3 separate regions of the Homo sapiens genome follow, and regions 1 and 2 are each reported to be linked to region 3. The links are microRNA targets in miRTarBase. Many come from high-throughput screens and were not tested one by one. Region 3 holds a microRNA gene; each other region holds the end of a gene's coding sequence.
Evidence for each region. The annotated mature microRNA hsa-miR-4646-5p reads ACUGGGAAGAGGAGCUGAGGGA and lies in region 3 at 4,348-4,369, opposite strand. An mRNA with a match to its seed (bases 2 to 7 or 8) in the 3' UTR can be bound and repressed. Matches are read on the target gene's strand: a 7mer-m8 pairs with bases 2 to 8, a 7mer-A1 pairs with bases 2 to 7 and ends in A, and an 8mer does both.

Region 1: miRTarBase lists EXT1 as a target of hsa-miR-4646-5p. Seed matches in the 3' UTR shown: 7mer-m8 at 974-980, 7mer-m8 at 3,698-3,704 and 8mer at 4,397-4,404.
Region 2: miRTarBase lists LRRC8B as a target of hsa-miR-4646-5p. Seed matches in the 3' UTR shown: 7mer-m8 at 5,006-5,012.

What each region holds. Positions count from the first base shown.
Region 1 is chr8:117,793,243-117,800,625 of GRCh38, reverse strand. It overlaps EXT1 (exostosin glycosyltransferase 1), which reads left to right. Exons shown (of 11, transcript NM_000127.3): 11 at 729-6,136. The coding sequence ends at 914. Among named protein-coding and RNA genes, the nearest start is that of SNORD168, 120 kb to the left of the region's middle.
Region 2 is chr1:89,591,122-89,598,899 of GRCh38, reverse strand. It overlaps LRRC8B (leucine rich repeat containing 8 VRAC subunit B), which reads right to left. Exons shown (of 6, transcript NM_001369817.2): 6 at 1,039-6,129. The coding sequence ends at 5,857. Among named protein-coding and RNA genes, the nearest start is that of LRRC8C-DT, 38 kb to the left of the region's middle. RefSeq lists an enhancer at 181-697.
Region 3 is chr6:31,696,723-31,704,500 of GRCh38, forward strand. It overlaps MIR4646 (microRNA 4646), which reads right to left and starts at 4,369; the gene lies at 4,307-4,369. ABHD16A (abhydrolase domain containing 16A, phospholipase) reads right to left here and starts at 6,602. Exons shown (of 20, transcript NM_021160.3): 1 at 6,428-6,602; 2 at 5,352-5,408; 3 at 4,552-4,618; 4 at 4,220-4,306; 5 at 226-311. The coding sequence starts at 6,559.

The DNA of each region.
Region 1 (7,383 bases), not on the chromosome of region 3:
AACAGAATTTTGAGATTTTAGTATAAAGTTAGTCATACAGCAACATGCTCTATATACCACTGAATCTCACCTTCTCATCCTCATGGAGTCACGTCAATGGGGAGGCTACAGAAGAGAAAACGGAGTTTTAGATGCTGCGTAACACTAGCCTTGAGTGACATGTAAAAGGCACTATTTTGTTCTTCTTCAACTATATATGTGAATTTTTAACAAAGGATTTAGTAGGACCCTTATAAAGGTAAAGAGATAGTAGAAGGAAGGAAGTGATGGATAGAGAGAAAGATAGACTTCTAAAAGTTGGTGGGTATTTCTAAATCAACTACATAAACAGGAAGGATTTAGAAAACTCTTTGAAAGCAGAAACACATCTTTAATCTTAGTACTTGGTCCCAAGTGCAAAGAGAGGTTTTAGATTGAGTCACTGTAGTAGTCGAGTTTCAGTTGCTAAGTCGTGGACTGACCAGAGAATTAGTCAATAAATTTTAGAGAATTAAAGTCAACATGAATCTTTGTTTTTGTGTTTTTAACACTGAGGAACGTAGCATACCTTGGGAAAAACCAATATCAGCGATTGCATTTTCAGCAGGTGCATAGATGGTGAGACTTGGTGGCCGGGCCAGACCCCAAGCTTTGCTGCTTGCTCATTTGCCTGACTCCATTTTCTGCAATGTTTCCATCTCACCTTGCACTTCTCTCATCATTATCCTTGTTTCTCTCCTTCTCCCTAGACTTCTCGGGCTTCCCGTTGGGCTGACCCTGACCACTTTGCCCAGCGACAGAGCTGCATGAATACGTTTGCCAGCTGGTTTGGCTACATGCCGCTGATCCACTCTCAGATGAGGCTCGACCCCGTCCTCTTTAAAGACCAGGTCTCTATTTTGAGGAAGAAATACCGAGACATTGAGCGACTTTGAGGAATCCGGCTGAGTGGGGGAGGGGAAGCAAGAAGGGATGGGGGTCAAGCTGCTCTCTCTTCCCAGTGCAGATCCACTCATCAGCAGAGCCAGATTGTGCCAACTATCCAAAAACTTAGATGAGCAGAATGACAAAAAAAAAAAGGCCAATGAGAACTCAACTCCTGGCTCCTGGGACTGCACCAGACTGCTCCAAACTCACCTCACTGGCTTCTGTGTCCCAAGACTAGGTTGTGTACAGTTTAATTATGGAACATTAAATAATTATTTTTGAAATGATTGCTATGCAGGTTTAAACTTTTTTAATGATCAAAACTATTAAAAACCAGAGTTCTTTGTTTAATCAAAATTGTGTTGGTTGTGAATATTTCAAAGCTGCTATTCCTTTTCCCACAGACATCATTGTCATGGCCATGTAGGGTGCCCTGCAGTTTCAAAAGCTCAAACTTCGTGGAAAACACAATAAGTCACTCTACCCATTATCAAGAAATAACTGAGCATAAGTTGTAACTTCATTATTCAACTTTGCCAGTGCAAATTGTTTTCCACTTCGAATCTTCAAATCCACTTGAACTTTTATCTCTAAAATGTCGCTGCATGAAAGAAAGTATTACGACTTCCAGGTAGGCAGTTCTAACTGAAATCTCTATGTTTGAGATAGATATATATGATAATCGTTTTTCATTGGGGGGGTGGGGGGAATTAGTACCAAGAAAACACTAGTATAATTAAGAAATGTTCAGTTTGCACAAAGAACTATCCAGATAACCCACCAGCATGTTAGTGAGATGGAAATACAGACCCACAACAGTAACCCAATACTTGCAGGGGTTGGGGGCACGGTTATAGATTCAACCATTGACCTAAGTCTGCGTAGCACTGGGAAGAGGCTTTGGTTTAGAAGCCAAGGAATAATGAGTATATTGGGGAGAACAGATTATTTACAAGATGAACTCTTTAATGTTTGTGAGAATCTCAAGTTTCAGAGTTTCTCTTTTGAGAAAGAAAAAGGGGTAATAAGGTAGAAATTCACACCAATGAACAAGAGGATTGCTGCAAAGTAACTGAGGAGATGTCTCGCCATTGGGACCCTAATGCCATTTTTGGTCAAACATTGTTTTGAGCAAGAATCTGGCAAACAAAATAATCAACAACAAATGTGAATATAGTTTCATTTACTTTTAATTTTTAAATCTGTGGAAAAGTTTAGTTGTGCTTCTTGTTAAAAAGAACATTTCTATCCCTGAAAATGCTATCTTGGGCTTATGATTATTGTTAAACTCCAAGTATAAACTGAAAAAAAAAACATATCCCTAACTCTGTTATGAAAAATGGAGACTTCTGATATTAAATGCTTTCTTCTACTTGGAAGAGGCCAGAGAAAACAGGGAAGAGAAAGACATTATTGAGTTTGACCATGTATTATGCTGAATAAACAATAAGCACTTTAGAGTCCCTCCCTCAAACTCTCATACATTTCATATTTCTTTTCCATTTATTTTCAGTTTTGTTTTAGAAGAAAAGTTCATCAGAGAATTTTGTTCTGATAATTTCAAGTGGCCATCTTAGGTCAGTGGAAACCGTAAGTCCATTGGACTTTACCTCATCCTTTCTTTGTAGACATCTGGGAGAGGAAGAGGAGCTTGTAATGATAGCACGGGGATGGTGCTGTAAACAGGAGTGAAAGTGTTTGTGGAAGTCCAGAGAAGTGACTCAACAGGCTACCTAGCTGCAGAACAAGGAGTAGAGCCCACATATCCAGATGGTGTTTTGAGAGGTGCGTAGACAGTGAAATTCAATTAAAGAGAGGATTTTCTCCTCAGCCTCATGACTCAGAACAGCTCCCTAAATACCTCTCTCATCTAATTGGACCCATCCATAGTCCATTCTCAAACATGTGACATTTTCCCCTAAGTAGATGTGATTATCTCTTAGGCATTTGTTGAAAAATAATTCTTAGGTCCATGGTGCTTGCACTTGTGTCTTTTCTATAAAATGTTTGGTCTTACAGGTTTCATGTCATTTAAGCTGCACTTCTCAGCAAGTTAAAAGATTAGCAGTTAATCTTTATTCATTTGGCCTTTGTGAATTTGTATTTAAATTATTTTTTTCAGGATTGGCAAATTATTCTTGTTTCTCCTTTACCAAAAAATAAATGCGATATTTTGTTCAATGACCCCAAAACCAACTTGAAACTTAGGTGGTCATATTGGCTTGCAAAGCAATGTCCCTAATTGTACCAGTCAGTCACACAAGTGGATTCAAGGACCTGCTTTGCCAGATTGACCTGTCACCAAGCTCACAACACATATCCTCCACAAACAACATGTGTTATGTGAAGAAAAATGGTAATTATAAATAAGAACAGGATATAACACACCTTTCATCCACTTTAAATCTCCACAGTTTCATTTTATGTCATTCTCTGAGCAAATCTCTTTGGGATGTGAGCTAGCGTGTTCTTCTCCCATTTGGAATATAAGGCTGGGAATAGAACAATGCTTAACAAATCAGTGAAGCTCGACAGTAATATGTAATTTTAATTCAGTTAGGAAAGAGTTGTATTGCATTGCAACAAGTTGACAAATCATAGCCATCTCTGTAGGGTGTCAGGAATTATCTCCTGGTCAACTTTAATGATAACTAGGGGTCCCTAAGTGGGCTAACATGTGCTGCATTGGAGAGAAGCCAAGGGCTGAGAGTACAGTGCCAACCACGTAATGAATTGCTTGCAGAAATTCCAAAGAGGACTCAGCCACTTATGGATTTCCACACAGCATCTTTTCCCAGCTCCACATTAAGACACAGGATCTTAAAAGTAATTTTTTAAAAGCTGGCTGTGTATTTATTTATATGAAAGTGTTATAAATATCAAAGCTTACAAATACATTAATACATATCACCTTTGTTGAAGCTAGCAAAATGGCTCAAAATTGAGACTGTAGAGAAAAATCCATGAAATAATCACGATAGTCATACCACAAAAGATAGCATAGCTAGGTGGGCCTACCTGGTCGTATCAACACACTTTCAGATAGATGCTTCAAAAAAAAAGGGAAAGCTTGTTACTGGAATCTTATGTGCATTACAGTTTAATTTCTTCTTGTGACAAATGGTGCTCAAAGAAGGATCAATCCGGTTGCATCCTTCAATTTCCCTTTTAGAATGACTTTTGGTTTTCATTACAGTAGGCTATGTTAGCCTTTATTTTGGTGGTTCTCAAATACCTGGTGACTTGAAAGAGTATTATGCTGGTGGCCTTTCATAAAGGTTACTGAACTTTAATCAGGGGTGAGATGAATGAATGTGAATAGGCCTATATACTATTTTTTTTAATTAAAAAAAAAAAAAACAGGGCACTTGATTTAAGAACAAACCTGTTTAAAGGGCAGGATCAGGGGGAAGACAGCCTTACTAGGTTGGAATCTGAATGAGATTCTTGCTGGACAAGGCTGAATTATGGATGCAAAAGCCAAGCAAACTTCCCAGACCTGGAAGTGTCTTGTGTTCCCTTGGGTCTCTTGAGATCTCCAGTATTTAAAAGTAGCAGTTATTGCCATGAACTCTCAAATAAAAATGCTCCTGCCTCTTACTTGTGAATATAATCAACATGCAGCCAGTACATCAGGACCGCAGTTGCTGAATTCATTTACCTAGTTCCCCTTTACAGCGACTATGGACAAGAACCTTTCAGTTGGTTTTGTCATTCTTGGCCAGATTTAACCAAGAAATTTCTTTCACTATCAGCCTCATTTTCTCAGGCATGCTTACAGGGACAAAGTTGTTTTGAGTTGAGTTCTCAGCAAATAAGCATTAATATCAAACTGTGCTAAACTTGTCTCACTTGGTATAAGAACTTCAGCATAAAGAGATTAGTTTATCCTTTGACACCAAGTCTTTTTTTTTTCTTTGAGACAGAGTCTTGCCCTGTCACCCAGGCTGGAATGCATTGGTGTGATCTCAGCTCAGTCACTGCAACCTCCGCCTCCCCGGTTCAAGCAATTCTCCTGCCTCACCCTGCTTAGTAGTTGGGATTACAGGCATGTGCTACCACACTGGGCTAATTTTTGTATATTTATTAGAGACAGGGTTTTGCTATGTTGGCCAGGCTGGTCTCAAACTCCTGACCTCAGGTGATCCACCTGCCTCTGCCTCCCAAAGTGCTGAGATTACAGGTGTAAGCCACTGCGCCTGGCCCCCCTTTTTTTTTTCTTTAAAAAAAAAAAAAAGCTTGGGGGATTAAGTACCCTAAGATAGTGGTCTCTCCCATCAGTTCAATAATGCTGTACAGAACCTCTGGATAAAAAAGCTGTTATTTACACCATAATTGTGATGATGGATTTGACTCCTCAAAACCATCTCTCCCCTTTTTGCCCTTTCCAAAAATCAAAGGCTTTTGTCTCCATGAGTTTTACCTAGTAGGGATTGTAGTTGTCACTGGTCTAGAGTTCCAATACATTTTATATCAGGAACCTCAGTGAGCTACCCAGAATTGGAACTTAACATGGCCCAGCAACTAGGAGAAGAAGGCAAACCTTGAGAAAGCTGAGCCCTCAGGATAGCACAGTCTCACCCTTGTTTAAAATCAAGTCAGGCTAGCCTTTCAGTCACTCTGGTTTTGTAATGATTTGCCTTTTAGGCCTCAGGCCATTTGATTTCTGCAATAGTTTTCTGTTCTTCTCCTACAGGAATACATCCCTGTCCTTTCGGTTGTAACTATTACTAAAACTAGGGCTATGCAAATGACCTGGTTACCATGTAATGAACCTTGTGTACTTATTTTGAGAGAACAATATGTATAGGATATGTTGAGGGGCAGAAAGAAAGACATCAAAAACTGGAACTATTTTAGGTGGCAAATTGTAACGCAAAAAACAAAAGTATACCTTATTTTGTATACGATGTACACTTGGGACAGAGTTTTCTAATATGTTGCCAATGTTTTTGTAGTGTCACCACAGGTCTTTTCTGAAGTGTTTTTCCCATTTGTTATAGAGTATTAATGACTTAGCGTAATTAAGCCCTCAAGTATGTGTGAGAGAGCGCGTGTGAGAAAATACAAAGCCATAGATATTGATTTACTTCACTGACCTGTGTAACTTTATGTCTGGGTTTCGCCATCCAAGATAGATTGTTTTATAGAGAGTGTCACCAAAGACTTTTTCCTTCCAATTTATAGAAGAAAAAAAAAAGAAATTATTAATAAATGACATGACTTTTCATCTGTGTGGTTTTCATTCCATCTTTTCTGTTGACTGCAGAAAGACGCCAGTTCTCAGGAGGATTCTGTGTGCCAGGAAAGGCCAAGCTTCCTTGGGGGTTCTGGGGTAGACAGGCAGATGAGGTTGGACGGAGAGTGTGCTGGATGTAGGTCCAGCACTCGCAGCCTGGCTGCAGCCCAGTGCCCAACCTTATGGGGAACATAGGGCCGCCAGCCATGGCCATCTTCCAGGCCAGATGCAGCCGGTGCTGTTGGAAGCAGGCCAGGGTGAACAGTGGTGATATGCCCAGTTCACAGCATTCCTTCGCATGAATGCTGGGACAAAGTGGCAGGGCCGAGCCCCAGAGCATCTGGATCCTGACAGCTGTGGCCATTACCCCTTTGGTTTCAACTACTGCATCGAGTTCATGAATTGCTGGCTTGCGAGGCGTATGTCACACTGGCATTTCTCAAAAGAATTTATAAGTGCTCCAGGTGTGTTGCAGCTCCATGATTCAGGGCCACTGTAGTAAGGTTTTATGTTCTCGCAATACTCCTTCCTCCTTTCCTATTTTCCTCCCTCGCTCCTTCCATTCCAGTGGTAGCTCTCCCCCAACTCTGTTACTCTTCTTCTATTCTCTTTCTTTGGGCATTTTTACAGTAAGAACATTAAGTCACCAATTTCACATATTTACAGGAGAGCGAATGGCAAATTGCATTTGGGAGCATTGATTTGCTTTATGACATCAATCACATTTTGTGTTCTGTATTTCACTTTGTCCATCTGTAAAATGGTGACTTTAAAATAGTTACTTACAAAGACTTTCTAAACAACAACTGCCTACTGAGCACTGAACAAGGCAGATGTCAAGGTGAGCTTGGACAAGGCCAGTCCAAGGCAAATCATCAGAGTAGGCTCAGAAAGGAATGTGGTGAACTCAGGTCCTAAGCTGGCACACTGTTATGATAGTGCCACTTGTAAAATCTGGCCCCAGGGTGTGTCTAATGATAGAATCATTCCCAAGTTGGAGAACAAATGAGAAGGCTAGTTGGAGAAGTAACTGTTAAATTTGGTTCTAACCTACCTCACAGATATTTCAATGAATGCTATAGCATGCAAAGATACCTTGAGCAAACCTCAATTACAGATGGTGTTGATTTATGGTCTGAGCATTTCCACTGAGTCCACTCATGAGATGAGAAAATGACAAGTTATGTGTAGATGCCTGCGTCATCCTACGTTAGCCTCCCCTGACTTTGTGCAGCCTC
Region 2 (7,778 bases), not on the chromosome of region 3:
GGATAAACTGCTTTTCCCTAGACCTCAGGAATGAGGGTGACAAAACACCAGGTGGGAACAGAGAAGGAAACAAACCATAACAAAAGTTGCCGCTCCAGAGAATGGAACCTTGCCCTCAACAGCACCGGAGTCTCTCCCTTCCAGTTGAGCCCTTTACCACTTTTTCAAAAAGCCATTTTGAAATGTGGAAGTGAATGCTGAAGTACATGAAGCCACAGTTATTGCTGTGTTTAGGGGGCCATGTCACTGCTGGGCAGACTGTTAGCATATAACTTCAGCATCTCAAAGCACCTAGCAGTCCCTGAAAGGCTGCTAATGCCTGGAGGCAGGCACTCACTTCATTTCAATAGACTTCCCATTCCTGAACCACTTAGAGATGGGGGAAGCCTTTCTTGAATGACTTACTGCATTTTCAGAGAATATGGCCAGGGAACAACTAAGTTACTTTCCTTCATAATCTGATTCAGTCTATATATATTCCAGCAAAATTCTGGCTATCAGCCTTCTAATGTGGTCCTGAAACTGTGTGTGTGTGTGCATGTAAGAGACCGAGAGAGGCTGTTTTCTATCGAAAAGTTCAAACTATCATGTACTTATTTTATCCAGTAATTCAATTTTTTCACCTTTGACTAAACCATCTCAGAATTGCCTGTCTTGCAGTTCTTTAGCTTTTGCTTACCTGGTTCACAATTCAGTGTTAAACAGGAAATGGAGAAACAGGCACCAAGAAGAAAGGAGAGAGATGAGGCGTTCTATGAACATCTGTCCCTGATGAATTCCAAGGAAAGACGGGCCCACTCATGAGAGATCTACTACCCCCCGCAACCCATGTATTCTAGGATCCACGCAGCTCTTTTCAGGTGCTTGTTATTTTGTGGCCATGGTAGCATATTTTGAAAACTCATACCATTGTTGTAAGATTCACATGTAAATCTGAAATCTATTATTTGGTGAATAACAGTACGACAGTACAAGGAAGCATGAGAAGAGAGAGGGAATCACTTTTGGAACTTGGTTAAAATTAGTACAGTCAACTTCTTCCAGCATTTACTGTTTTTATTTGCCATTTGTTATAAAAATTGGATCTTTATTTTACACAAAAGGTACTTTAAAAACAGTGAAGTTTACCAAAAGCTACTGAATCTGTGGCAAAGGGATTTACCACCAAAAATGCAGATTTACACAGTAAACCTGAGGGCCAAAAACATTGAACAAAATCTTCCATTTTCTAATAATTCATTACCAGAAGCAAAAACAATTGTACACAGATAAATATGTGAAGGTTAACAAATGCTAGCTTTCACTCTTGCACTAACCAAATAAAATGTCTCTATTCCAGATTGGCCCATTATTTCACTAAGTGAAGTATTTGAAGAATTTAAAAAAAATCTTCTTGTAAACATTAATATTTAAATACAACATATATATGCACGAACACATCCATTCTAACTCTATACCCCTTTGTATTCTTAAAATTGCACCATCTCTGTTAGAGATAATGTACAACATGCAGAAGGCATTCATAATTGTTTTTCTCAGCAGTAGTGTATTATACAAGTTAAATGCAAAAGTTAAATATGAAATTAAACTCAACTGAAAGCCATCTCGACTCAGTACTTTGGCTCATTATTCTATGTTAATGCTTTAGTGCTGATGAAATTATTCATATAAAAAATCTGAAGAGAATGTAGCCTGTTACCAAAGGTATGTAGTAGATAGCTCCCTGTGGATACAGAAGTGATGGACAAGAAACAGAAGGAAACCAGTGAAATAAGACTGCAGGTTTTCACTGCTTCAGCTTTTCACATCCAGCTGAAAAGAAATAATTATATCGAGGGCATTCTGCAACAGTAATTAGCTTATACTATTTCAAATATATATATGATGACTTCATAATACAAACTAGGATGCAAAATAACTCCTTCCCTCCCCCACCATTCTGTCTGTTTCCAGATAGAAATAAACAGATTCTGATGCAATGTACAGTTACTGAAAACAAAGCAGATCTACAGTTACATTGTCCTGCTTTGGGTACAGATCAGCTCTAAATACTGCAGGATGGGCAAAGTAAAACTACTCAATGAGACATAATTACAGGCACTGGCTTCCTCCTAAATAAATACATGCTCAAATATCATTGCAAATCTTCTGGCACAAATATATTCTGTTACTGTACAATTGCTGATCAAATTTAGTGCGGTAGGTGAGTGGAGAAGGAAAACAACATACCTTATGTGCATAGGATGATGCTAAGAGAATGTGAAGATGGAAAGATGAAAAGAAAATTTTATTGAAAACACAAGAAAATAATGTTAAGGGCACAGAATAATTGTTTGATTATTTTAATGGTTTTTGAACCCATCAATATTATGCAATATTTTAATTAAACATAAAATTTTAATCACAAAACACTTGAACCGAAAAAAAATTTTTCACTATCAAACAATGTTATGCAAATACATCACTGCAGTGCACCACAGCACACCTATTGGAGCTATGCCACAGCACTGAGATACTGAGGATCTCTATTTACCCTGTTTAACACAATGTGAAGTGACATAAAATACAGTGACATACAGGGGAAAGAAATTAAGACTGGGAGTGAAGAATGAAAAGATAGTATCTGTGTGCCACACAGATGTACCCTGATGTAAGTTAGGAAAAGAACACTACTCCTTTACTGGAATGCTCAAAAACACTTAGGTTCTCAGATTAAGGTTGAGCATGTGATTTCTTCTAAATGTCATAACTTAGGGAACAGAGCACTTCATGATTAATGAATTAAAAAACGTGCTATCATACTTAATTTAATCTACAACCTCCTGCAATTTTGAAAAAAAAACCACTAGATATATCAAAAACTAATGCTATAATTTGCATATATGAAGTATGTGTGTCTGTGTGTGCATGCAAATAAAATTAATCCATGCCATTACTACCGTAAGCTATGAATTTTGTTCTGAATAACCTCCACATTTATTTTTTGGAAAATGCATATGTATTCTTGAAATCAAATGCCAACGAAAGTCTCATAATTATAATTTAACAAACTTAATTTTCTTCATTTAAAATTCTCTTATGTGAATATGAACACTTGTAAAATAAAGATCTGCTCCAACAGTACAGTAAAGGTGGTATTAACACCCTATTTTTTATGTGAAGTAGTAGCCTCATTTTTCCTTGCATCAGGGCTACCTTGTCTCAAAAGCGACCTAAACACTGGTGTATAAGGTTTAAATTAAAAGATGTAAAACCATGGCATCAAGAACAACATAGATTGCACCAATAATTATACCCTAGTGTGTGGAAAGCAGTTTATAATATTCATTATTAATCCTGCTAGTAAATTCTTCTAGAAATTTACGTAGGTGATAAGGAAAATTTAGCCAATGACTTCTGCAGTTGAACCAAACCAGTGACGAGCCATGGAGAAGTTCGTCAGGTGAATGGTAGCAAATCTGAATTTTGTTTTGAAATTCTAGCTAGTTATGTGGCCAAAAACATTTAAGCACTTTTGGCATATTCATGTCCAAAACTTAATCACATGCCACACTGGAATCAGTATACATGATAATTCTATTGTGAAACACTAAAATAAACATCAACTCACACTTTAAAAAATGAAAATAACAACGAAAAACATGGATATAATTAGAATCTGTTTTCTGAAGTCCTAGAAGTTTCATCAGTTATACCTGCTTCCCTGAGAGCTGAATGTTCTGACTAAAGGCAAGTTTTGGTAAGTAGTTTATTTTTACACTGTTCCTTTCCGTTCAGAATAAACAATAATGTGTGAGGCAGTGTGTTTGGTGTCCTATATTCCTGATAGCTAATATTATTCAAATTTCATTTGATTTGAATAATTCTTTTCTTTGAACTTTAGTGCAGGAGTGTGTGGCAGGTGAGGGGAAGCTCTATTTGCTATGCTTTAAAGACTCACTTTCATCTTTCTGGAACAAAGCAAGAGAAAACACATACCACGCACCACAATTCCATATACACAGTACTGTTTACCTATAGTGTTTTCCAGTTTTGTGTAGGTGCAGTTAATAGATTTCTTCATAGTTATATCCAAAATGAAGAGGTGGCATCATAATGCCTAGACCCTTAGGGAAAAACATATTAAAGATGTACATTTCCCAAAAATGAGTCAGTTGATTTTATTCATTAAAAATATGCATAATAAAAGGCCAAGCACAAAGCTCTTTATAAAAAGGAGCAAAATGTATTTTCCAGAAGAGTTAGATAAAGGCATGAGATGAATTTCAGTTAAATGGATCTATTTCTTTGTGGGTTTTGAGAACTCATTTTAGACACTGAATAGAGGCTGTTTTACATTATAATCATAGCTAGAGATTACATAGATGGAGGGAAAAAAAGTCTTTTGCTTTAACTCTTACTAAATTTCTATAAAGTATTTTAAAATCAATTTAAAAACCAAATCTGTACCTCTCCCCTCTATCACAGTTTTTGTAAGTAATTAAGAATTTTACCCGTACGATTGCACAGCAACTATGGAAGAGAGAGGTAGATGATTCGGCCACCCTCTCACAAGGAAACCCCCAAATACTTTAGGGCATTAAACACAAGGCTTTTGTTATCCAAAAGTAATTAGTTGCAGAGTACAAAAACATTTTGGAGCAGAATGTACATAAACATGAGTCATAAACAGCCGAAACCAAGAACACTAACAGTAAGTTCATAAAGAAATGCACAAATTCTATGTATCTTACAAAAATGATCCTCACAGATGTTGAATCCAAGATTATACAATAGAAAATATTTATATGTTTTACATTTAATATAAAAATTCTTAACAAATAAAAAAAGGCCTTGATGATAGACAAGAAGAAATTTTAGGGAATACATTAATTTTCAGGATGCCCCGAGGATAATACATCTTAAATACTCAGCTCCTGTTCTAGGCAAAGGCCAAATGCAGGCATTTTCTCAGGGTTCATCATTGGTGTTAAGAGAAAACCAGGTTAAGGAAGACTCAAGCAAGCTGGGAAAGGAAGTAAAAATTAAGCCAAAAAAGAATTCTGCCAAGCACAACATACCCTATCTAAAAAAATTTAGGAACATAAATCAAAGACAGTCGTGAGTATACATCAAGAAAATTCATATTGATGAGTTTATGGTCTTGGTGATAAATATCAAAACAGGAAGTCAGTTAAAACAAGTGTGCAAATAAGTAATGGGGACTGGGGGAAGAAGAGGAGAGAATACCTATACAATCTTGAAGGTAAACACTGCAAGGAGGAATTTAGTCATTTCATAGCTCCCAGTCCACCCTGGATGTGCATTTCTTGCAACATCTCAATAAGTTAAAGAACAGTTATTCACAAAACTTCAGGTTAGTGTTAACAGTTTTTACCTGGTTAATTTAGGGCTAGACACTCAGTTGCTTTAATAAGACATTTAGTTATGGTTCATCATAATAGTCACCCATTCTTCATCTTTATTAACTTAGAAAATTTTACTTCTCATTTAAAGCCCTGGAGCATTTTTTTTTTTTTTTTGAGATAAGAGTCTTGCTCTGTCACCCAGGCTGGTGTACAGTGGCACAATCTCGGCTCACTGCAACCTCCACCTCCCTGGTTCAAGCAATTCCCCTGCGTCAGCCTCCCAAGTAGCTGGGATTACAGGCGCACGCCACCACGCCTGGCTAATTTTTTTGTAGTTTTAGCAGAGATGGGGTTTCACCAGGTTGGCCAGACTGGTCTCGAACTCCTGACCTCAAGCAATCCGCCCATCTTGGCCTCCCAAAGTGCTGGGATTATAGGCATGAGCCACCACGCCCGGCCGAGCATACTTTTAAAAATGATTTTGAAACACGGGTCTCTTTTCTTTAAGTCAACATTTGTCTAAGCACGTCTGTAAACGTTCTGTTACAGGGAGAGGAAGAGTATTGAGCAAGTTCTCCTCAACAATCAGACAGTTCCGTTTTAGGGACTGACATCCTTCTAGTTCAGGAGGAAGTGTTTCCAGGTAATTACCAATGAGCTCCAGATGAGTAAGGTTTGACAGCTCACCCACATGAGGGGACAAATTCATCAAGCTATTTTTCCCCAAAAGTAAACACTGCAGCTTTTTGCACTGAAACAGCCCATCTGGTAGCATCTCAATCTGGAAAGGGAAGAAAAAAGAAGCTGGTAAAATAGGTTTTTGGTGGCTTATGATAAGACATTTACCTTTTTTCCAAAAAAAAAAAAACAAAACATTTCTGGAGGTTTATAAGTGATGCAGACTACAATGATGATAAATTTGAAGTAGATGAAAAGATAGAGGGAAAATGAAGACAGGAGTACAATGAGGAGTGAGGACTGTGGCTACCCTGGACACCTACATCCTTGCTGTATATGGGTGGGCAACGAATTTGGTTTTAAACACTCTAACAAGCAATTCTTAAATAAAATGTAGTTATACACACATTGTCGTTAAGATAAAAACAAACCAGTAAGAAAAATCATAATTACTCTTGAGTCCTTGATCAGAAATAAATTACCCTCAAGAGTCTTCATAAAAAGTTTACTGTGTAATGTAATGAATAATACCCTTAAAAACATCCTAAGAATCTGACAGCAGACTGAAAACCTTATTCTCTTTTTTAAAAAAGCCTACAGAAGCAGAGCAAAAAAATATGATTATATATACATGCACATTTCATTCCCCTCTACATACACATACACCTGAATATTTACTCTTGTTCCTTCCCTCTGGCATGGTTTCAACTAAATAATTTATAACACAGATACTTTTAAATATAATAAATATTATGCAAATTAGGTCAACTCCTAAAGCTGCTCCCGTTGACTGCTGCCCTATATGGTAGATAGGTTGCATGTCAATTTCTAAGGGCGCCACAGTACATAGAAGAAATAGGGTTTATTGAGGAAAGACCTCCAGAGAAGAAGTTGAGCACATACACAATCCCTTCAACTCATCACTTCACTGAGGGATAAGTCTGGCCTCAGCATAGATAGACTGCACATACCACCGCTCCCTACCCCCCATAATACTCTACATATTGGCTGGGGACAGGGGCCACCTACAAAAACTATGAAATAATGTAGGTTCCTTGGTTCCAAAACTGGCTTTGTTAGAAACAGGGATAAAAAGGGCACTCAGGGACTTGGCCTATATCCTCTGACGGGCTAATGCAGACCGGCTGGGAGACAAGTTTCTAGGGCCATCCAGAACTGTCTCTCCTCAAAAGGATAAATAGCTTTTATATAAACTAAAAAATGACCAAATTCCATTAAAAATGTTAATGATGTTGTAAACTCCATTCTCCTACATCACCCCTCCCTCTAACACACGTTCAGTGCTGTATATCCTTAAAAATAAATCTAATGATTGTCACTGCTAAGAACAACATTCCATATAGATCATCATTGTACACCAAAATATTAGATATAAACAAAGGGAAAAATATCTACCCTTTACTTTCATTTCCTTCCCAAGAGCAGATGCAAACCCTACATATGCAGACTTACATTGGGAGATGAGGCAGAGAGATGAGAAGAAATGCAACCTCTTTCTAAGGCAACCCCTTCTGCACAGAGATACCTGCAGCTCAGAAGTAGGATCAGTGATGTCCAAGTGAAGGAAAAAATCAGTCCTTTGCAGTGTGCATTATTAAGAGTGCTTGTTGGTGCCTATGAAATGACTCAGGCAAACTGGCTAAAAAAGAAATTAGGCTTGGCTCATTTATATTCAGTGAGCACGTGCTGAGTGCCTTCTAATGTGCCAGGCTCCCAGCTAGCTGCTGGGAT
Region 3 (7,778 bases):
CTAGCAGAATATTCCATTAGAAGTGGTAGGGAGGAAAAATTCCTCAGGTGGACAGTTCACTAATGGAGGTGAGAAGGGATACAGCAATGTGCAAGCAAACACCCAGTGTGGTGGGTGGTAAAACACACCTCCTCTTCCTGCAGAAGCCAGTGTCTGGTGCTCTGAGGGACAACTGAGAAAGCTGCTATTGGGTGCCTGTGTGGCACTTTTCCTAGGGCCTCTCACCTTGTTTTCTGAAGACTGGTTCCGATGTGTTGCTTCCAAGATGGTGATGAACTGCCGGTACTGGGGGTTGGTCCAGCGGCCAATGCCTGGTAGAAAAAGGACAGGAAACAGTGCTAGGAAAACTGGGAAGCAGAAAGCCTAGGTTTTAGGAAAAGAATTGGAGATGGGCTAGAAGAAGGCCCTGTAAGAAAAAGTGAAAGAAAAAGGAACTGAGGGCATAGGATGCGGAGAAATAGATGTGAGCCAACCCCCTTCCTCCAAATCCAGCAACTGGCTACAGGACGCTTCTTCTCCCTAGCTTCTGCAGTTTGTGTCTTTATAGACAATCCTTAACCTACCATCTTCCAGAATGTTCCTCTTCCTCAGTCTTTAAACACTGTCATATAACCTATTAAATGACACTATTAAACACTATCATATAATACTATTCTCCCTTGCGAATATCAAATTTCTCTATTTTTCACTGCCATTCTTCTCCAATGTTTGCTTTCTGCCTCTTTTCTGTATATTCTAGCCCCTTGCCATCTGGCTTCAGAGTCTCCGACTCCTGCCCATAATTACTTCCTCACTGAATTCCTGACTCTTCTATCCTCATTCTCTTCAACTGTACTACTCAGCATTCTCCCTGTCCCTCAAGATTCTTCCTGCCTCTGCTTCCTGGGCCCATCCTTGACTCCTTCCAGTTCCTGAACAGTTCCTCTCCTGCCTCCTTTCTGCTTTCCTTTCTGAAGCAGAAGCAACTCTCAGTGCTGACTCTCTCTCCTCTCTCTTTTCACTTACACAGTCAGTGATTGCATCCACTCTCCTTTCACTGCTGAGCCACCTCAAACCCTAACTTCTCTCCTCACTGACTTGGCAGGTGTCGTGTGTCAGACAGGCACCGTACTACACACGGGAGACTCAGCAGGAAATGAGATACACAGCTCCTGGCTCTCAGAGAGCTGGCATTCTGGTTGGGGTTAGGTACAGCCAGGAGAAGACAATAAACAACATTTCAGAGAGGGATAAGTGCTACAGAGAAAATACAACAAGAATGAACCAGAACTTTATGTGTCATCAATGGTATTCCCCCAAAACGATATGATGAGAGAATGATGTGTGCTGCAGAATGATTTGTACAACATTTATGCCAAAAATGTAAAATGTGCAAAATAATACATACTGCTTATAGATACCATATTTCATAGATTCTAAAATGTATATTTTTTAACCCTTGAAAACTCTGAAATTAGAATTCATTTTACAATTGATGGCAGCTTAGACTTGAGGAACTGAGGTATATGTTTCATAAAAGTATGTGCCAGAAAAAAAAAAAACCCACACCAAATGACAATTATTACTTCTGAGGAAAGAGGAAGATGGGACTGAAAGGATTCCAATGGGAACTCCAACCCTAACTGTGGTGCTTTAGTATTTTGTTGACAGAAAGCATTTAAAGCAAATATCACAAAACTATATATAAAAAAAAAATCACAAAACTATACATCAAAAAATTTAAAAAGGCTTTTATATTTTGTTCTCTGGACTTTTCTGTATTTTTTCTTTTTTCTTTTTTTTGAGACAGTTTTGCTCTTGTTGCCCAGGCGGGAGTGCAATGATGTGCTCTCGGCTCACTGCAACCTCCGCCTCCCGGGTTCAAGTGATTCTCCTGCCACAGCCTCCCAAATAGCTGGGATTACAAGCGCCCGCCACCATGCACAGCTAATTTTTTCTGTATTTTTTCTAAATTAAAAATAAATAAAATAAAAAACTAAGACAAAACTGAGCAGTGGGAGCTACTTTTAGACAGGGTGGTCAGGGAAGGCCTCTCTGAGGAGAGAGCCCAGCCCTGCAGAGATCAGGGGGCAGAACACCTCAGGCAGAAGGTCCTGGACCCAACTGCGACCATCCAGCCCTGACCCCACCACCCCCATGTTGAAGCATCGCCCATCACCTGGTTGTCATCTTATGTACCCACTAGGGGTAGGTGATCTGTCCTCTTTATTTTTTTAAATTGCGAGATACAACATATGTACATAAAACATATATTCAGTTTAAAAAATACAAAGCAAACATTCATGTGACTATCACCTAGGTCAACAAAGAGAACACAGCCACCTCTCAGCAGGGCTCTCCCCCACTCTGTTCTCCCCCACCCCAGGTAATCACTCTCCTAACTTTTGAGAAAACCATGCCCTTGCTGGGCGCGGTGGCTCAAGCCTGTAATCTCAGCACTTTGGGAGGCCGAGGCGGGTGGATCACGAGGTCAGGAGATTGAGACCATCCTGGCTAACACGGTGAAACCCCATCTCTACTAAAAAATACAAAAAAACCTAGCCGGGTGTGGTGGTGGGCGCCTGTAGTCCCAGCTACTCGGGAGGCTGAAGCAGGAGAATGGCGTGAACCCGGGAGGCGGAGCTTGCAGTGAGCCGAGATCGCGCCACTGCACTCCAGCCTGGGGGACAGAGCGAGACTCCGTCTCAAAAAAAAAAAAAAAAAAAAAGAAAACCATGCCCTTGTTGTCTTCGGTGTTCTACCTCAAACATGCACATCCCTTTTGAATTTTATATAAATGAAAACATACTGCATACATTATTTTGTGGTTAGCTTCTTCTATTTAACACAACATTTGAGAAATTCATCTGCATTGCTTTTGTTTATCTGGAGACAGAGTCTCGCTCTGTCACCCAGACTGGAGTGCAGTGGTGCTATCTTGGCTCACTGCAACCTCTGCCTCCCAGGTTCAAGCAGTTCTCATGCCTTAGCCTCCCAAGCAGTTAAGACTATAGGCATGTGCCACCATGCCCAGTTAATTTTTTGTATTTTATTTTTTCTGAGATGGAGCCTTGCTCTGTTGCCCAGGATGCAGTACAGTAGCGCAATCTTGGCTCACTGCAACCTCTGCCTCTTGGATTCAAGCAATTCTACTGCCTCAGCCTCCCGAATAGCTGGGATTACAGGTGCTCACCACCATACCTGGCTAATTTTTTTTTGTATGTTTAGTAGAGACGGGGTTTCACCATGTTGGACAGACTGGTCTTGAACTCCTGACCTCTGGTGATCTGCCTGCTTCAGCCTACCAAACTGCTAGGATTACAGGCATGAGCCACTGCACCTGGCTTCATCTGCGTTGTTGAGCGTAGCTACAGTTTGTTCATTTGCATTGCTATATAGTGTTCTCTTGCATGGCTATTGCATGGAACTTTTTTTTTTTTTTGAGACGGAGTCTTGCTCTGTTGCCCAGGATGGAGTGCAGTAGCGCAATCTCGTCTCACTGCAACCTTTGCCTCCCAGGTTCAAGCTATTCTCCTGCCTCAGCCTCCTAAGTAGCTGGGATTACAGGCACGTGCCACCATGCCCAGCTAATTTTTGTATTTTTGGTAGAGACGGGGTTTTACCATGTTGGTCAGGCTGGTCTCAAATTCCTGACCTCGTGATCCACTGGCCTCTGCCTCCCAAAGTGCTGGGATTACAGGCATGAGCCACCACACCCGGCCACACAGAACATATTTTATCCATCCTACTATTTGTAGCCACTGGAGTTGTTTCCAGCTTAGGATTATTACAAACAATGTTGTATGCTGTATTCTTGTACATCTATATTGTTTATACATGTGCAGGAGTTTTCCTAGTATGTATACATATATAGAATTGTTGTAGGGTATATGCATCTTTTCTAGATAAAAGCAGCCAGGCATAGTGGCTCACATCTATAATCCCAGTACTTCGGGAGGCTGAGGTGGGAGGATCACTTTGAGTTCAGGAGTTTGAGACCAGCCTGGACAACATGGTGAGACCCTATCTCTTAAAAAAAAAAAAGCAAACCTTTTTGTTACTTTTCAGTTATTTTTTCATATTTATAACCCAAGTCTTTTAAGGAAAAGATCATGCCTTAAACCATTCTCAATGATTCCCTCTCGGAGGCCCATCACTAAAATGTATTTGCACAAGGTACTTAATTTTTAACCAGTGACAGTGACAGATAAGATTCAAACCAGGTTTCCTCTCCACCTACCTCGGAGGCAGGCCACACCTGCCAGAAGTAGCAGCAATGTCCCAGCATAGTGAGAAAACGGCACCACTTTGGACAAACTCAAGTAACCTGGGAAGGGAGAGGGACAATGTGAGACCCTCTCCGCAATGTCCCTCAGCTCCTCTTCCCAGTTCAGCCCCAACCTCCACCCCACACTCCCTGTTTGGAACAGCCATACCCTAAGAGGAAGAAGATGCCTGATGGAAGAGGGAAGCCAAGCCATCTTCACAGGTCCCCTCTCCTCTTTAGGGAGCTGGCTCATCTGCCAACAACCTGCCCATTTGCTACCCCACCACCTTTGAAACCACACTGACCTTTCCTGTACAAGTAGAAGAAGGCGAAGGGAGAGGAGTAATAAGAGATGGACCAGAATACTGAAGCCTGCAGCAGAGAGACAGGGACAGGCAATCAATACACACACACACACACACCTGCCATTCCAGGCATATACTATACACTCTGAGCAAGATGGACAACCTGAGGGATATCATATCATATTTGGTGTATGACACCATGAATACAGTAGGTGCTCAGTATTTGTTGAAAAGTAGTGTGTCAATGTAATGGAGGCTGGGAAAATTTGGTACAGGCTCTATTTTCTTCCTCTGGAATTATGGAAGAATTATGTCTTCCATCTCCAGACATAATTCCATCACATTTAAAGGCAGTCTCTCTGTCTACTCAAGTTAATCAAGCCTTTTCAATTGGCCCTGCTCAGGACAGCCCCTGGCCTGGTCCCCAAGAGATGCGCAAACGTCACCACAGGAACTGTGCCAGAAAGAACAGCTGTCCCTGCAGCCAAAGAGGTTAGTTGCCAGGGAGGACAGGTCACTGGGGAACTGCAGGACTTAGCACCTGCAGATGGTCCCAAGAGTAAACATGTTTTCCTTACGGCTCAGGTTGCCCCCAGAGAAAGCAGTGCTACATACCAAAGGGGAGTGCCAAGTATGCACATTTAGAGTGTGCCTGTGTGTCTGTGTTGGAGAGGTCTGCTGCAGAGCCCAGGGCATCCCCCAACCCCAGGGCACTGTTGCTCCCAAGTTAGGGAGGGCTAAGTTCAAGAGGACAGGTGGGTCTGAAAGATGCAGAGTCCCAGATGCCAGGGTAGACATACCAGTGCCAGGATGCTGTCAGCATGTTTCTCCAGGGCACGGGGCTGATAGTACGTATCCTGCCAAAACAGATGGCCTCCTTAAGGACCCTGCCCACTGGCAGGTCCTTTCCCTTCCCTTTCAGAAGCCCTGCTGTGTGTCCTCTGGTTCTAGTCTCGTTGACTATCTCTCTTGAAACATCCCTGGCCCCCACAGAAACTCCTCTTCCTCACCCTCACTCTGAACCTAATTTCCCACCCCTGACCATGGGAACAAACACAGGGAGCTGGATTTGGAAGCAAAAGTGAAAGCAGCATTGGACGATTTTTGCTCCTTTTCCACAGCCTAGTTTCAAATGGATTGCAGGCGCGTGCATGTGGGGAGAAGGGTTAGTTTGAGAAGAAAGAAAAGACACCTAGACAATCTAAGAAGGAAAGAAAAGCATCAGAAATAAGAGTAGTTGACTAAGAAGAGAATGTGGGTAGGAGCGGGCAGTTTGTAGGAGACAGTAACACAATGAGACAACTGATAAAAAGGAAGAGAATATTTAGAACAGCCTACCACCACCCGCCAGCTCTCCAGAATACAATGACTCGGGTCTCCAGGCTAGGTTGGGCGGGGGTTGAGGGGAGGACCGACGGATACAGGATCTGTAAAAGTCATTCTGAAATTCAAGGCGAGGGTAAAGGGAAGATAAAAACAGAGCCGGGGGAGGCATGAAGAGGCACTGAAGAAGAGGAAACTGGGAGTCTGACAGCAAAATTCAACGGCTCCCCAGTCCGCGCAGGGTCTCTTCCCGGGACTCAAGACTCAACTGGGACCGGCACGAACCACGACACACAGGGTCGGGGGGACGCGGAGAGGAAAGAACAAAGAGTGGCAGTCGGAATGAGAAAGCGGTAAAGAGCGAAAAAGAAAGGAGGCGGCCAGTCCGTAGGCGTGACTTTAACTCAGGAAGCACACAGAGCGCAGATTTTGCGGATAACTGGCTTGACAAGCAGGCTCCCCTTATTTCCCATTATGGGCACTTCTGGGGAGCAAAAGGCCGTAAAGGGTTTGGACTGTACCACGTTCTTCGGTGGGGAGGAACTCGACTCACCCAGGAGCTGGAATGGGGGGCAGTGACTGCCGTTGGCGTCTCAGGGACGCTGGCCGGGGCCCTTTCAGAGTCCCTCTCCCGGTAGATTTTGTAGAGCCGGGGGCCTAGGACGCAGCTCAGCAGCTTCGCCATGGCCCCGGCTCGGGCCGCTGCTCTTCCAGCAGCAGGTCCCCCTGCCGGCCCCGCCCTCCCTGCCTCTGAGGTGTTGTGTGCCCTTGACGTCAGCCCGTACCGGCTCCGCCTCCGGGCGAGTTGCGACATTTTCAGTGCTTCCTGAGAAGAGTTTCGCGCAGTTGGAGCTACGGGTACAGCAGTGGTCCGAAACTAGTGGAAGACCACTAGAACGCGGAGAATCAGAAAATTACCGGGCATGGTTCAATAATTTTTTTCTGTCTCATTATTGGCAGACTCTAGAGCGACAGCGGAAACGAGGGGTGAGATTAGGAGTACTTGATAAGAGTAACCGAAAACATAAGGTGTCTAGGAATGTATCTAGTACAAGAAATGCAAGGTTTTATGAAGAAAACTATAAAAAGTTATTGAAAAGGCAAACTGGCCCGGCCCGGCGCAGTGGCTCACGCCTGTAGTCCTAGCACTTTGGGAGGCCGAGGCGGGGGGATCACTTGAGGCCAGGAGTTCGAGACCAGCCTGGCCAACATGGTGAAACCCCATCTCTACTAAAAATACAAAAATTAGCCTGGCATGGGTGGTGCGCGCCTGTAATCCCAGCTACTCGGGAGGCCGAGACGCGAGAATCGCTTGAACGCGGGAGGCAGAGGTTGCAGTGAGCCGAGATCTTCCCACTGCACTTCAGCCTTGGTGACAGAGCAAGACTCTGTCTCTAAATAAATAAATAAAGGTAAACTGGCCCAGCGCGGTGGCTCACGCCTGTAATTCCAACACTTTGGGTGGCCGAGGGATGATTGCTTGCGTCCAGGAGTTCCAGGCCATGGCTCATGCCTGTAATTCCAACACTTGGGGTGGCTGAGAGAGGATTGCTTGCGCCCTGGAGTTCCAAGCCAGCCCAGGCAACATAGTGAGACCCCATCTCTACACAAAATACCAAGGGGGAAAAAAAAAAGACCTAGCAGGGTGTGGTGGTGCCCACCTGTAGTCCCAGCTACTTGGGAGGCCAAGGTGGGAGGGTCGCTTGAGCCCGGGAGTTTGAGATCGCTCCATGCACTCCAGCCTGGGTGACAGAGCCAGACCCTGCCTCAAAATAATAACAATAATAATTGAAAAAATAAAAAAAGAAAGAGGTAAACGAAAAGCTTTTCAATAAATGGAAAGCTACACCATGGTCCTGGATACGAAAATTCAGCACAGTAAGATATGCGGAATATTTGTAAAA